2 linked regions of the Homo sapiens genome follow. The protein of the gene in region 1 interacts with the protein of each later gene in a pairwise test. Each region holds a gene or a part of one and is shown in the gene's direction. Other genes may lie near its edges.

The links.
Region 2: the proteins of NAV2 (region 1) and ADAT2 interact in binary tests that used the Homo sapiens proteins (3 or more experiments, as listed by UniProt).

The regions. Positions count from the first base shown.
Region 1 is NC_000011.10:19,932,419-19,940,193, forward strand, and holds part of NAV2 (neuron navigator 2), read left to right. Parts: intron 1-757; coding exon 758-1,859; intron 1,860-7,242; coding exon 7,243-7,355; intron 7,356-7,775. UniProt on the Homo sapiens protein: Possesses 3' to 5' helicase activity and exonuclease activity. Involved in neuronal development, specifically in the development of different sensory organs.
Region 2 is NC_000006.12:143,433,495-143,441,269, reverse strand, and holds part of ADAT2 (tRNA-specific adenosine deaminase 2), read left to right. Parts: intron 1-129; exon of another isoform or gene 130-217; intron 218-2,575; coding exon 2,576-2,680; coding exon of another isoform or gene 2,681-2,684; intron 2,685-7,288; coding exon 7,289-7,439; intron 7,440-7,775. UniProt on the Homo sapiens protein: Probably participates in deamination of adenosine-34 to inosine in many tRNAs.

The DNA.
Region 1 (7,775 bases):
TCTACTTCTCCTGCCTCAGCCTCCCAAGTAGCTGGGATTACAGGCATGTGCCACCACACCCAGCTAATTTTTGTATTTTTAGTAGAGACTGGGTTTCACCATGTTGGCCAGGCTGGTCTTGAATTCCTGACCTCAGGTGATCTGCCCGCCTCGGCCTCCCAAAGTACTGGGATTACAGGTGTGAGCCACTGCACCCAGCCATTTGCAACTTTTAAAAAGTGCCAGCATAGGAAAAACTTACATGCTTTAATAGGCTTTAACAACTTTTGTGTGTAATTATTCTTTTTTAAAGATTCTACATGGTTTCTCCTTCTTTTCTATTTTTGTAATTGTTGTATTTTAATGTCTCTGATACATTGTTTGCTTAAAGTTGGATAATTCTTGATTCTTTCCCATAATTGGGAAACAGGCTATGGGATGAATAATTGAAAACGGTAGGTATTTCCTACTCTCTCCTGCACTGGCTGTATTAACGGTGCAGGTGTCTGTTAAGATTTGTTAAGACCTGCATGCTTTCACGTGGCACATGCCACCAAAATGTGATGGGGTTGGGGGGATGTGAACTGTGCAGTATGGAAAGCAGGAGGAAGTCAAGCCAGAAATTAAAACCTAACCACAGATAATCCACAAAGTGGGCAATGGAGCTATACGGCATTTGGGTTGGGAGTGATTGGTTGTGTGGCCATGGCTGACCCTCCCTGGTCTTCAGTGCAGGTCAACAAGTATGATTCAGGCCTCCTCTCTTCTGTCTCTGCAGAGCCTTTGGCAAGTTCAGCCTCCTCCCACCCCGGAATGAGTGACAATGCACCTGCTTCCTTGGAGAGCGGCAGCAGCTCCACCCCTACTAATTGCAGTACCTCCTCGGCCATCCCGCAGCCCGGTGCAGCCACCAAGCCTTGGCGCAGCAAATCCCTCAGCGTGAAGCACAGTGCCACGGTATCCATGCTCTCGGTCAAGCCTCCTGGGCCTGAGGCCCCCAGGCCCACACCTGAAGCCATGAAGCCGGCCCCCAACAATCAGAAGTCCATGCTGGAAAAGCTGAAACTTTTCAACAGTAAAGGGGGCTCAAAGGCAGGTGAGGGGCCGGGGTCCCGGGACACAAGCTGTGAGCGGCTGGAGACTCTGCCCAGCTTCGAAGAGAGCGAGGAGCTGGAGGCCGCCAGTCGCATGCTCACCACCGTGGGCCCTGCTTCCAGCAGCCCCAAGATTGCACTCAAGGGCATTGCCCAGAGGACTTTTAGCCGGGCACTGACCAACAAGAAGAGTTCTCTGAAAGGCAATGAGAAAGAGAAGGAGAAACAACAGCGGGAGAAGGATAAGGAGAAAAGCAAGGACCTTGCCAAGAGAGCCTCTGTGACGGAGAGGCTGGACCTCAAGGAGGAGCCAAAAGAAGACCCCAGTGGAGCAGCTGTGCCCGAGATGCCAAAAAAGTCCTCCAAGATTGCCAGCTTCATCCCCAAAGGGGGGAAGCTCAACAGTGCCAAGAAGGAGCCCATGGCCCCTTCCCACAGTGGAATACCAAAACCAGGAATGAAAAGCATGCCCGGGAAATCCCCAAGTGCCCCAGCGCCTTCCAAGGAAGGGGAGCGGAGCCGGAGTGGGAAGCTGAGCTCAGGACTCCCCCAGCAGAAGCCCCAGCTGGACGGCAGACACTCCAGTTCCTCTTCCAGCCTGGCGTCCTCAGAAGGAAAAGGCCCAGGAGGGACCACCCTGAACCACAGCATCAGCAGCCAGACTGTCAGTGGGTCTGTCGGGACCACCCAGACCACAGGAAGCAATACCGTCAGTGTTCAGCTACCTCAGCCCCAGCAGCAATACAACCATCCCAACACTGCCACGGTTGCACCTTTCCTGTACAGGTAGGAGCTGCCACCCACCTGTGCTGCCTGGGACATTGGGTAAAAGTTCCTTTATAGTGGATTCCGGGTCTGTAAGGGCAGAAGCTAGACTGTGCTCCAGGAATACTTAAGTCAGTAGCTAAGAAACCACGTGATGAACTCCTAAGAGAAGCAGACACAATGTGCTCCAGGGAGCAGTTCATACAGCACAGGTTGGGGAAGGAACAGAGAAAGCTGAAGAAGGGAAGTAAAATGTGAGCTGATCCCAGGATGCATAGGAAAGTGGGGACCCCAGGCCTTGTAGCAGCAGCTTCCCTGAGCAGAAAGCATGAAGGCCTAAATATGAGGGTGGGGGCGGTTTGGTGTCACCCGACAGTCCCCAGCATTAGTCCTAACACATCCCAACATACTTAAAAAATAAATAAAATAATAAACACCTGGCTCAATAACTAAGATTTCTTATAGCAGGGATTGCCTTGAACATCCAGATCCTCACAGTCCCTGCTGAGTGCTGGGGCTTTCTGAAGGGAGAGGGACATTGGGGAGAAGAGTAATGGTAGGGGAGGGGCTGGTCTAGAAGAACAAGAGCTCATGTTCTGAGGAGATAAGCCTGGGTGTTTGTGGAGATGGATGGATCCTTCTGTCTTTATCTGTCCCCTAGCCCCTGTCTCTTTGATGGCACATCCTCAGGACCATGGGAGACTGTGTGGAGCCAGTCCACACAGTGGTGCTGCTGCTCTGTGTGATTCTGGTCAGCGACATTGCTCATTGCTCAGGCTACACCACACCCCTTGCTGAATGAGGCACATGGGATTCAGGGGCCACGTCATACACATGGATGAGTCCACTCCAGGCAGATGGAAGCTCCCCAACCCCTGCCCTTAAAGTTCTTATCATTCCCAGAGCTTTCACTGACAGTGCCTGATTCGATCCTGTGCTGGAGATGAGCAGTGCATTTGGCCACATTGCACAATTGGATAACTAATACTTGTACACACAAAAGAGGATTAATGATCAAGTGTCACATTCTAGACACGTATTTTACAGTTGTAACTCAAGTGCATACAGATGCACAGCTGTACACTCACACTCATACAGCCATACATGTGGACACACATTAAAAGTCACATATAAGCATGGACACAAGTATACATTCATACATAAAATGCAAAGGCACATGTGCATACCCGTATTTACATACCTGTTCAGGTGCATAGGTGCATGCCCAGACTTTCAGCTTGCTATGTTTGTATGATTCCCCAAAGAATTCGATATTCCCTCTTTCCTCCTGAGCTGTGTTCTAGTGGTCTCTGTTACAGTTCCTGCCAATAGCTGGTGGAGGGACTGGCTTAAGTGCTTTCAAAGGAAAGCCAGCCAGCACCAGGCCAGCAAAGGAATGTCAGGCATTGCACTCCTTCCTTTTGTTCTGCTTGCATTCTCCTTCAGTGAGGGTCATACCAATCTTTTTAATTGGGAGAAGGTCTCATTTTATTGAATCAAGTCATCAGCTCAGCTCACAATCCTGAGAGAGCACCAGGGCTTAGATAATGACTCAGCTGGTCTACATACACGGCTTTTGTTTTGTTTTGTTTCTGTTTTTTTTTTTTTTTTTTTTTTTTGAGATGGAGTGTCGCTCTATCGCCATGGCTGGAGTGCAGTGGCACCATCTCAGCTCACTGCAACCTCTGCCTCCCAGGTACAAGCAATTCTCCTGCCTCAGCCTCTCCTGAGCAGCTGGGACTACAGGTGCATGCCGCCATGCCTGGCTAATTTTTTTTTTTTTTTTAATTTTAATACAGACAGGATTTCACCATGTTGTCCAGGCTGGTCTTGAACTCCTGAGCTCAGGCAGTCCACCCTCCTCAGCCTCCTAAAGTGCTAGGATTACAGGCATGAGCCACCGCGCCCAGCCATGAACTGTTCTCTGAAGTGTGGAGGCAACTAAATAGCTCCATATGAAATTTTTATAATTCCAATAGCATTATTAGTCTTAAGGTAATACATATTCAGGATTCACAGCTTCTCAATTTGCATTTTCAAAATTAAAATATGACAGTCTTTGATCACCATCAATCCCATTCCTTCTTTTTTTGTTGTTCGCTATAATCATTTGAAAGATTATAAAAGATATAACCTTTTTTTATTTCAAGCTTTTCTATCAGAAGAAAAAGTCTTAATGATAAAAAGCAAATGTCTGACAAAGAGGAGGAAGAGGAAAACGTCTATGATGTGGATCTGACTAGCCCCGTTTTTACGTTAATGCCCACTCTGGGTAACTAACGTCCTTCTGTCCCCTCTGAGTTGCCTTCATCTTTAGGGTAGTCTGGGAAGTGACGCTGGAAATAAGAGCACCAGGATACGAATCAGGACACCTGGGCCCTGTCCTTTATCAGCCCTTGGTGCCCTCTGAGGTCTTCGGCACTGGCTGCAGGAACAGGTATTGATCGAGTGTGGGTACAGAGTCCGCTAAGGGCTTTCCACATCTTAGCTCACTTCATTCTTCCCACACCTCCATGAGCTAGCAGCTTAGAGGTAATTAAGCAATTTGCCCCAAGTCACAGAACTAGACTAGAGGGGCTCATGTTTAAAACCAGGTGTAGGCTGGGCATGGTGGCTTACACCTGAAATCCCAGCACTTTGGAAGGTCAAGGTGGGCAGATCACTTGAGGTCAGGGGTTCAAGACCAGCCTGGCCAACATGGTGAAACCCTATCTCTACTAAAAATACAAAAATTAGCCTGGCGAGGTGGTGCACGCCTGTAGTCCCAACTACTCCGGAGGCTGAGGCATGAGAATCCCTTGAACCTGGGAAGCGGAGGTTGCAGTGAGCCATGATCACGCCACTGCACACCAGCCTGGGCAACAGAACGAGACTGTCTCAAAAACAAACAAACCAAAAAGCCAAGTCTGTCTAACTAGTGAGACCAGGCTCTTAACCACCAGTCTTGACTCTAAATCACTTTATCTTTATTGTCTTCATCTGGAAAATGAGAAGATTGGATTAGATTAGATTCTATAAAATGGTTTATTCTCCTTTTCTGCTCTAAAATTCTCTCCCTCAAGCTTATGGTTCACTATATATAACTTATAATTGCTCCCCCCCCGCCCACCAAAACCTCTCCATGTTAAAGTTGTTACCAAGGAGTAAAGGGAAGATGGGTCATTTTTTTAAAAATCACTCAGAATGAATTATATTTATCAATTCAGAAGTAACAGTGGATTCATCTATCACTTTATCACTTTATAGTTTACTAAGAGTTGTGTGTCACATCACCTTTCATTTTTATAGAACCAGAGGAGATTGCTATTATTATCCCCATTGTACAGATGAGGATGCTGAGATTCAAAGAGGTGGAGTGACAACTCAAGTTTTGCATGGCTAACAAGTTATAGATCTTAGACCTGGAGCTAGTCGAATATTTAGACTTCCAAGTCTAATGTTCCTTCTAGTACCTAGCATCTTCTGAGACTTAAACATTTCTTATTTATCCAGTCAACACACCCTTCTTGCGTTGCCTGTGTAGCATATGAACTTGAACTAACCTTTGCCTCTGAAGAGCTCTCAATCTAGTTGAGGAAAGATTTACATTTTCGCCAACAGGAGAATAAGGAGAGTGCTATAGGATCACATTTTAGCCAACAAGAGAATAAGGAGAGTGCTGTAGGAACTCCTGGCAAGGAGTCAAGGAAAGCTCTCAGGAAAAGATGACATGGAAGCTGCATCTTAAAGACAGATTAGCAGCGAACTAAGGAAGGAGGAGAAGGGCCTTTAGGCAGAGAGGTTGTAGTTACTGCAAAGATAAACCTGTTAAAGCCATGTGGAGAGAAGCCACATGTGGGTGCAGCATAGTAGAGTTGTATGTAAAGAGTTGGAAAGGCAGGAGATGGGGCTGGAAATAAAGGAAGAATGTGGCCATCATCTACCACAATAAGGGGTTTAGACCTTATTCTGTGGGTAATGGAAACCACCGAAGACAGTGATGTCATCACGTCAGTATTACAAAAGTCAATGAAAGATCGTGTGGGGAGTAGACCAAACTTAGGAAGAGTGTAGAATGGAGATCACAGATTCAGATGCCTAATTGGCCTCTAAATGGTCATCTAGATGGGTGGCTCAGGGTGAGTGGGCCTGTGGCAGAGGGAGCCACGCCTCTTTAGAGGGTGCAGCCACCACTTGGCACCAGCAGGTGGCGATCTGCAATAACAAAGACAGTCCTTTCCAAGCTTTATTGTTTTTACTGGACGAAGGCAGAAATGCAGATATTTATTGTGAAATATCCCGATTTTTAAATGTTGAACTAATTTTAAAACTTTAAAATATTATGCAGACCAGTAGGAATAAGTTGGGCTGGTTTCCACACCGGGCTGCCATTTGTAACCTCTAGGTGTGAGGTACCTGTTTCAAAGTACTCATAAGGCCTCAGCAGAGATGATGAGGGCTTGGACCCTGGCTGGAGGTGAAAGGAGCACAGGGAGTATGAAATCCTTTAAAGGTAAAGATAACAGAATTGAGAACGATGGCCTCAGTAGGAAGAACAAAGGAGGGAAGAACAGTTGGATGACTTGAGGTTTATCAGTACATCCCCCGTGGTCCATTCTCATTCTGGGCAAACGTTTTCTTCACAGGTAGTGAAATCGGTTGAATTAGTTCAGCATGCCAGTGCGTTAATAATGTTACATGCAGGGTCATGCATCTGAGTGTAATTATGCATTTGCATGCCATGCCTGAATGAGCAGAGGTAGCTGTGACAAGAAAACATTGCATGAAGCTGTTGCTTCAATTTGCTTGACAAATAAGGGCATGGAGAGGGTTTGGGGAAGTACAGATTTCAGTCAAGTGTTGAAATAATGATCAATGAGACCTTTCATGTCAGAAGAACTAAGCTCTGAATCAGAGACCTGGAGGGCAAACACACCTGCTTGGCACCCACTTCCGACTGGTTTTATGGTCACCTTTATAGAGAAAACCATGTCAGGAGAATTTTGGGGTGGGGGAGCTGTTAATAGAGTCATCTTTATGTTTGACTTGTTGGCATGGCTGGTTACTTAGAAGCTGTTCTTTGGCATAGGTTAAATTATTCAAATCACCCCGTACCCTCCAGCATGTGTCTGGCTAGACCTAGCATCCTGACGGAGGTTCAGAGAAGCATTCCCCAGTGAGGGATTGCAGACCCTCCATCTGGGCAATGAAAAGTTTATCTTTTACAGTTCAGCGGCTCTCTCTGTTCTTAGGACATTGCTCCACATACGGCTAATGAATTATTTAGCGTCAGTCTGCTGGTCCACTCTGTTCTGAAGCTTCTTGCTACAGGAGGTGATGGTGAGGGCTGTGGTTAGACCACAGTGGTCCAGATGTGGTAGTTGCCTCTCATGACAAGTGTGTCTGCTTCGGTTTGTGTGTGAAGGTCTCAGACGGACACTGAAGGGAATGTTACTGCCGAGTCAAGCTCAACAGGTGTGAGCGTGGAGCCCAGCCACTTCACCAAGACTGGACAGCCTGCTCTGGAAGAACTCACTGGTGAGTATGGAGCCTCAGAAATCTGTGTCTGTTGGTGATGAGGCCTTCCACGCAATACCTGCTGGAACAGCATGAACCCAGCTTGATTACGAGTTGCATTATGTTTGCATTGACTTTGAGCTAAACAAACTTTCTTTCTTTTTTTTTTTCCTATTATTTTTCTTCTTGTTTTTCTTCCCTTTTCTCTCCCTCTTACAGTTTCTTCCCTCCTCCCCAGAATCGTAAACAAGTCTCTTACTGGTGTGCAAATCCTATTTTTAAGATACGTTCAGTTTTATTCATTTAGGGGCTCTGGACTGCACTGATACTTAACTTTGAATCTTCTTGTTTACTCTTCAGATAAAGTTGCTTTTCAACAAGATTTAGAATTCTAAAATAGTGGATTTCGTTCCTGTATGGAAGCACTGATTTAAAATATGT
Region 2 (7,775 bases), on another chromosome or scaffold:
TTTGTAAGTTTTTTCCTATTTTAGCATGTTTTTCTTCCTCTTTGCTGCATGTATTAGTTTCCTATGGCTGCTGTAACAAATTATCACAAACATGGTGGCTAAAAACAACACAAGTTTATTCTCTTATAGTTCTGGAGGCCAGAAGTCTGAAATTTTAGTGAGCCCCAATCAAAGTTTTGGCAGGGCCGAATAACTTCTGGAAGCCTGCCTTTTCCAGGTACTGAAGTGACATTTATGACCCATCCCTCCATCTTCAAAGCCAGCAGTGCAGCATTTTCAAATCTCTCTCTCTCTCCTTCCGTTATCACTTCGCCTCTTGCCTTCTGTGGGTGCCTTCAGGACCCACCTGAATTTGGGATAATCTCTCCATCTCAAGATCCTCAACAAATATTTTTTGCATGAATAAATGATTTGTCTCTTCTGTGTACCTTGATCTCTGTGTAATTCTACACTTACCTTAAATAAAATTCTTAGTATAATAATTGCCATAGCTACACTGGTAGTTAGCATTTCCATTCTCCTTAACTGTCCGTCTTCTTCCTGGCTTTCTTCTCTATAGTAGCCTATGGTGCATTTGTCTATATTAACCAAACCTCGGGACTCTTCAAGCCTTTTGAACTTGCATAAACTGGACATGCTTTAACCACTGTCACAGAACTGGGACACAACCGGCCTGTGGATAGTTCATAAAATAGTCCTGAATGCAGTCTTACTGCATCAGATACTGTCTTCTCACATCTCTCCATGCCCCATCTCTGACCCACCAACCAGATGGAGAAAAGAGAGGCCCAGTTTGCTCCTGCTGTGGGCGTCTCCTTTTTCCTCTAATGGCCAAATGAAGAATAAGTGTCCGTTGAACATGGTGGGAATAACTGAGGAAATCCTGTATGCCTTATAATAGGAAGTTGTCACTAGTTAAATAAAGTAGAACTGGGAGTAAGAGACTGGTGCAGGAGACAGAAGACACTGTTTTAACAATGCCTTCAACTTTGCACTTTATATGCCCTATGATGTGTGTAAGTACCTGCACTTAAGTGAGAATCAAGTCTTCCAAAGTCTCTTCAGGGCTGCCACAGTAAGGAATACCTTGCCTTTCTGGAAACAGCTGTACAGCAGTTATATTCTTTTGACTGCATTGAGATGGGAATGAATGTACACTAGTCCAAGGGTTGTACTCTTCCCTTATTCTGACTCTCAGAGGCAGTATCAGGTTATACTGAGGCATAACCTGCCTGCTTAAGCTCTCCGCCTGAAGGTAGAGTTAATTTTCCTAGGGCCCAGAGCTGCTATCATGGGACAAGAAGAAAAACGAATGGCCTGTGATAAAGGGAACTTTGAGAATATAATAATTGGTTTGCCATTCCTGGGATGGTAGTCATGGAAGTGTTCCTAAACTTGTTTTTCTCATTGATTTTTTTCAGTTGAGGTATACTTTATATACAGTGAGATGCACAGGTTGTAAATGTATCCTTCAATCTGTTTTGAATAATGCAAACATCTCTGTAATCCATGTCTTTATCAAGATCCAGAAAGTTTTCACCACCTCAGAAAATTTTTTTGTGTACCTCCCCAATCAATCTGCACATCCTCCTCCATGAAGCAACCACTGTTCCAGTTTCTGTCATTGTAGTTTAGTTTTATCTATTCTGGTACTTTGTGCAAAAGGAATCATATAGTATGTGTGCTTTTGTGTGTGACTTCCTTTACTTAGCATGTCTATGAGGCTCATCCATGTTGTCACAGTATCAGTAGTTCCTTTTTATTGCCGACTAGTATTCCATTATATGAATAGGACACAGTTTGTTTATCCATTTTCTTGTTGATGGCCACCTGTGCAGTTTCAGGTTTTGGCTATTAACATTCTTTTTCAAGGTTTTGGTTCTTTTTCAAACTTTCTTTCTTCTTCTTTTTTTTTTTTTTTTTGTAGACACATATTCCCTTCTTTTAAATACTTAGGAGTGGAATTTTGTTATAGACTGTGTGTGTGTTTACTTTTTAAAGAAATTTCCAAAACGTTTTTCATAATGATTGTGCCATTTTACATAGAGTACTTCTAAACTCTTATTGTCTCACATAGAGTAGAAATTGTGGGACAGGGTGACATCCAGTCTGGTTACCTTTAGCTATTGGGACTCTAGAGGATAATTTCTATAATTTTTAGAGAAGCAAAGGAATTTCAGTGAGGAAAGGATTGTAATAAAGGATCTATAAGTGTTATTTAGTCCCCTACCTTTTTGCAAATATGTATTCTATCTCTGAAAAGACACATAGACCCTGGCACTTCAAGAACAGTGGTCAGTCACAGTCTCCTTTGATCACGTCTATTTCCAATGAGAAGACATCAGGGGCTCTGGACCTATCAAGGGGATTTTTTTTGAGTCTCCCTTAACATGGACACAACACAGAACACGGGCACTAAATACCGTAATGGAACTATATTCCAGAAAAGGGAAGGCTGCACTTCTTTGTTTCAGTCTTTGTACATGTGTATCTTGTTCATGCTGCATCTCTTTCTCTCCTATACTCTCTTCAAGTATGGAGTATTACGTCTTACATTTTCCACTTTGTGTTTCAGGCCAAAGAAGCCCTCGAAAATACTGAAGTTCCTGTTGGCTGTCTTATGGTCTACAACAATGAAGTTGTAGGGAAGGGGAGAAATGAAGTTAACCAAACCAAAAATGTATGTGAGTTGAGCAGTATAATTGCAAACATACAGTAGTGATGGGTGGACTGGAGAGAATTTACCACAGTTGGTGTGAAGGTGAGACTGAATATAGTCCCGTAGCTGCCAGTGGTGGGTAGCTTTTCTTAACGTCTCTCTTTTTCAGTATCATTTTCTTCCTGATTTTGAAAGTGATACATGTTGATTTTTTTTATTGTGGAAAATTCAGAACAATTTAATGAAGCCATAAAATCTTAGTGAATAATTTTCTGTTTCATAGAGTTTTACTCTAATGCTTGAGTGAAACCCAAGAGGGGATTTTATTTCATCAGAATGTCAGCATGGAAGAAACAAGTCTGTCTCTACTTTAAGCCAATCTAATATATGAAATTTTCATTTTATAAAATAGGTCAATTTAACTCATAATACATTCCTTTTTTAGTACCTTTAAATAATATTTTCATCCTAGTAAGTTAAAAAAGTATCCTCAATGTATAGCTTTGGAGGGAGGTATGAGGATTATATAAAGGAAGCTATTCCTTTATCAGATAATTCAACAAAATAGGGTCTTCAACACCAGCTGCCTCTGTAGCTACATGTAGCATGTACATTTTAATAGCTTGTATGACTTTTATTGTGGTTAGGTTGGGAAGTTCATGGTTCAAGGCAATGCTTCTTAAACATGGTATCACAATAGTGTGTCATGATAAGTATACTTGGGAAGTATAAGTAAACTACCAAATTTTATGATTACAAAAATTCCTAGGTGGACTCAAAGATCACTTATACCTGTAATGCCATTCACACAGACTTTTATCTTGTCATATGATTTTGGGAGCCAGAGAATAAGCTGGTGTTGATACCAGGGCTGTGGGAACTAGTTCATCTATCAATCACATCTATTGAAAAGAAAACTGATATTTAGCAAAACACATGTAAAATAGGAATCCAGATTCACAAATCATTTATTTACTTATTTATTTTTAGCCATAAAATAGAACAGGATTATATTTTAATACGTAACTTCTGTACAACCAAAAAAATAAAACACCACAGTAAAATAAACTGGAATAAACATGGTATTTCATTTGCAATGCTTGACAAAATGTTCACATCCTTAATCAGAAATGAGTTCTTAGAAATCAGTAACAGAGAGACTAATATTACAAGGGAAGTGAAAATAAAAGGAACAGAGGAAAATGAAATAACAACCAATAAGGCTACATGAAGATGATCTAACTTAACTTTAACAGAAGAAAAAAGCAATTTCTTTGTAACATTAGATTATCAGTGATTAAAAATACTGATATCTAATGTTTGAACAGTTTTAGGGAATGGGAAACGTTCAAACACTGGGAAAGCTTACATTGATTATAGGAAATTTACTCAAAATGTAGATTTTGCATATACTTCGCCCTAGCAGTTCCAATCAATAGGAACTGTTCCGACAAAGTAGTTGGACAATTCAGATTTATATATAACCATGTTCACTGCATAGAAAATCTGTAGTTAATATGTCAGCCCCCCAAAAAAACTTTTTTATCAATTTGCTTATGAAAAATAGTAGATCGAAGTGTAGAATTAGAAAGAAAAAAGACACTTAAATAAAAATATAGTATTTCACAAAATTCTTTGTCCTTTGAATTCTTGAAAAAGACAACTTTTTAATGAATCAGTTTTAAATTTACCCTGTAATAAGTGAGAAGCATGAATATATGTAAGTCATACTTTTAATTTTTATTTATTTATTTATTTTTTTTACTATGGAAATGCTTTAATAGAGGTGAACACACAGCAAGAACAGCAAGTGCCCACACAGACATGACTATCACAGAACACATTGTGGGCAAATGAAGAATTCATACCACCCCCGCCCTTAACCCAGTAACAGAAGGCTCTACGCCCCCATTTCCTCAGTCCACTCCTCAGACTCTCCCTCCTCCTCAACAGTGGCATCCTGATACTGTTGGTACTCTGATACCAGGTCATTCATGTTGCTCTCGGCCCCAGTGAATTCCATCTCATTCTTGCCCTCGCCCATGTACCAGTGCAGGAAGGCCTTGCACCTGAACATGGCTGTGAACTGCTCTGAGACGTCTCTGAGCAGCTCCTGGATGGCCGTGTTGTTACTGATGAAAGTGGTGGACGTTTTTAGTCCTGCGGATGGGATGTCCCAGAAAGCTGTTTTCCCATTGTAGGGGATCCAGTCAGCAAAGTAGCTGCTGTTCTTGGTTTGGACATGAAGCATTTTCTCCTCTACCTCCCTCATGGACATCCAGCCCCTGAAAATGGCAGCCTCTGTTAGATAGAGGCCATACTGGGGGTCATAGGCAGCCATCATGTTCTTAGCATCAGACATCTGCTGGGGGAGTTCAGCCACTGTCAGGGCCTTCTTTGTTGTTTAAATGCTCATTTTGAAATACCTTTTTAAAATTTCAAATACAGAAAGTAGAAGCAGTTCTATCTCATTTCTCTATGCAGAACTATTAAAATTTTGCCATATTCTTCCAGACAGTTTTCTTTCATATAAATCATGTAACAATATACAAATATATACAGTCTTTTAATTTTAACTCACATGTGCAATAATTTCAAACAATGTTAAAATAATTACCATTATAACACTGAGAAGTATTATAACTGCCAGGGTAGTCATTCCCATATAGAATTAACATTTTTAAATTAGCCGTTACCTTTTCAGTTAGAAAAAAACAGAAGCATGTACACATACCTCTGCAAACAATTAGCTGATGTTTGTTGAAAAATGACATAATTTTAAATATCAATTTAAAATACTGTAAAACATACAAAAATTCTTTTTGAAAAAGATGTTTTGAAGAATTTTTAAAAATGTTTTAATTACATTCATGTTGAATCACAAAGCAGTTATTAAGAGGATATTAAAACATGAGATAAGTAATAAACATAATACAGCAATTAATGAATGTATAGATACTTATTTAGGAGTAGAATTCTGTATTTTAAATCGTGGTCAAATTTTCCAATTTGCATTTTGTGTATGATGTCTTAAGATGAGAACTTTGACTGTCCTAACAATACCCATCTAACCCCATCCAGTGACCGGGGTTTCTTCTATATGCTGAAATTAACCTGGGTTTATTTTGTTATTCCGTGTCATAAAGAAGATTACTCTATAACTACAGCATAGAAAGACTCTTGACCCCAAATGAGAAGACCTGAGTTCTACTTTTGGATCTGATACCACCACCACTACCCAGTCGCCACCACCACCTCCTCTCCCAGCTGTATGTGATTAACACATGCCAGCTTTGCTTAGCTTCTTTTTCTTTAGTAGTAAGAGAGTTGACTGAGATGATTGAGTTCAGCAATTGTTTATTGAGAGCTGTAGGGAGATTTGATTCCATAATTCTAAATCTGATTTTTTGAAAGCACCTAAGTTGGGGAAACCTTTTTTTTTTTTTTTTTTTTAAACTCTCCACTTAGTTTTGGTGTGCAGCCAGGTTTGGGAACCTCTTCTGTAAAGTACCTTCCATCTCTGGTAATTAGTTCTGTGATTCACCCATGTAGCCCCTTGGCCAGCTCTGCTCCCATCTGCCTCTAGCTTCCATGGCATCTTGGGCCACTGTGCTAGCACTTTTCATACCCTGCCCTATCTCACAGGTAAATGAGCCCTACCAGATTTTATGCTTGTTGAGGACAGAGACTTTTTATCCTACACAGAATTTATTTAGCCCAGTGGCTTGTGCATGGTTAATACTCAGTGTAAATTATTGATAAATACTATTGTCATGAATATTATAAATAATTATTCCATATAGAATCTATGATTCACTTTAAGCTATTTTAGTAAGGGAGAAAGAAAAGGAGACAAGAGCTAGCAGAGTACATGTGTAGTATTATGTGGCACCATGCTTCATGTAATTCAGATTTATAAGGTTTATAAGTGTAGATACCAGTGTATACCATTTTACATATGGGGAATCCTAGACTTACAGAAGTTAAGTTACTTGCGTAAGTCCACATAATTGGTAATGTCACTGTCAAAATTCAAATTTAAATGGAGTCACTTCCACATGCTATGTGATTTCTCCTATCCTCTACTGCTTCCCATGAAGTGTCTGAAACCAATACCAAATCTCTACTTCTCTAGAGTCTTCCAGTATATAAAACCTCATTCCCCAAAAGTGTAAGAGATGACATTCCAGTGAACTTAATGTAGATTTGCTTGGAGTGAGGTCAGTGACAGCCTTGAAAATATATTTGAAACTAGAGCACAAGCTTATGAAAATTTTGCTTCCCCTGAAATATTCAGAAACCATAGACTTTATCTTTTTTTCTTTGTTTTTTAGACTTACCTTCTCCATGGCATTTTAATTGAAAGAGTTTTCCCTAAGGTACTTAGGTACTTAACTAAAAATACAGCATGATTCCTGTGGCATCTCTGATTAGATATCTTTCGCAAGTGAGGTTATGGTACTTGAATTGGGGAATACGTTGTCCACTGCTAAGGGTGTCTTGAAACTGTATTCATTAAAATATTGGCAGAAAGGATAGGCGCATATTTTGTACTTAGTTTTTGTATATTTGTAAAATAGTAGTCACATGAAGCAAACAGCATCAGTGCAAGCCCCTTTCTCTTTTCAGGCTACTCGACATGCAGAAATGGTGGCCATCGATCAGGTCCTCGATTGGTGTCGTCAAAGTGGCAAGAGTCCCTCTGAAGTATTTGAACACACTGTGTTGTATGTCACTGTGGAGCCGTGCATTATGTGTGCAGCTGCTCTCCGCCTGATGAGTATCCTTTGACTTCATGAGTTAATGTATCGTACCATTCGTGTGAACAAGAGAGTGGCCAAACACGTAGCCTGTTTTCCAAAATATGAAAACACAGACTTAGGAAACACCTTGTAAAATATAGTGTGTCTTAGCCAAAAAAAAGAAAAGCTTTTTAAATAGTAAAATGACCTATTTCTTTTCATATCAATAAACATGGAATGATTAAACAAATAATCTAGAGAAAGAAAATATTAGAACTGTCTTAAACAGTTATATAAAGGTAAATCATAAATTAAGTTGAAGTGGATTATAAAACAGTTTGCAAAGGAAAAGTCCTAAAGAATATGCAGCTAAG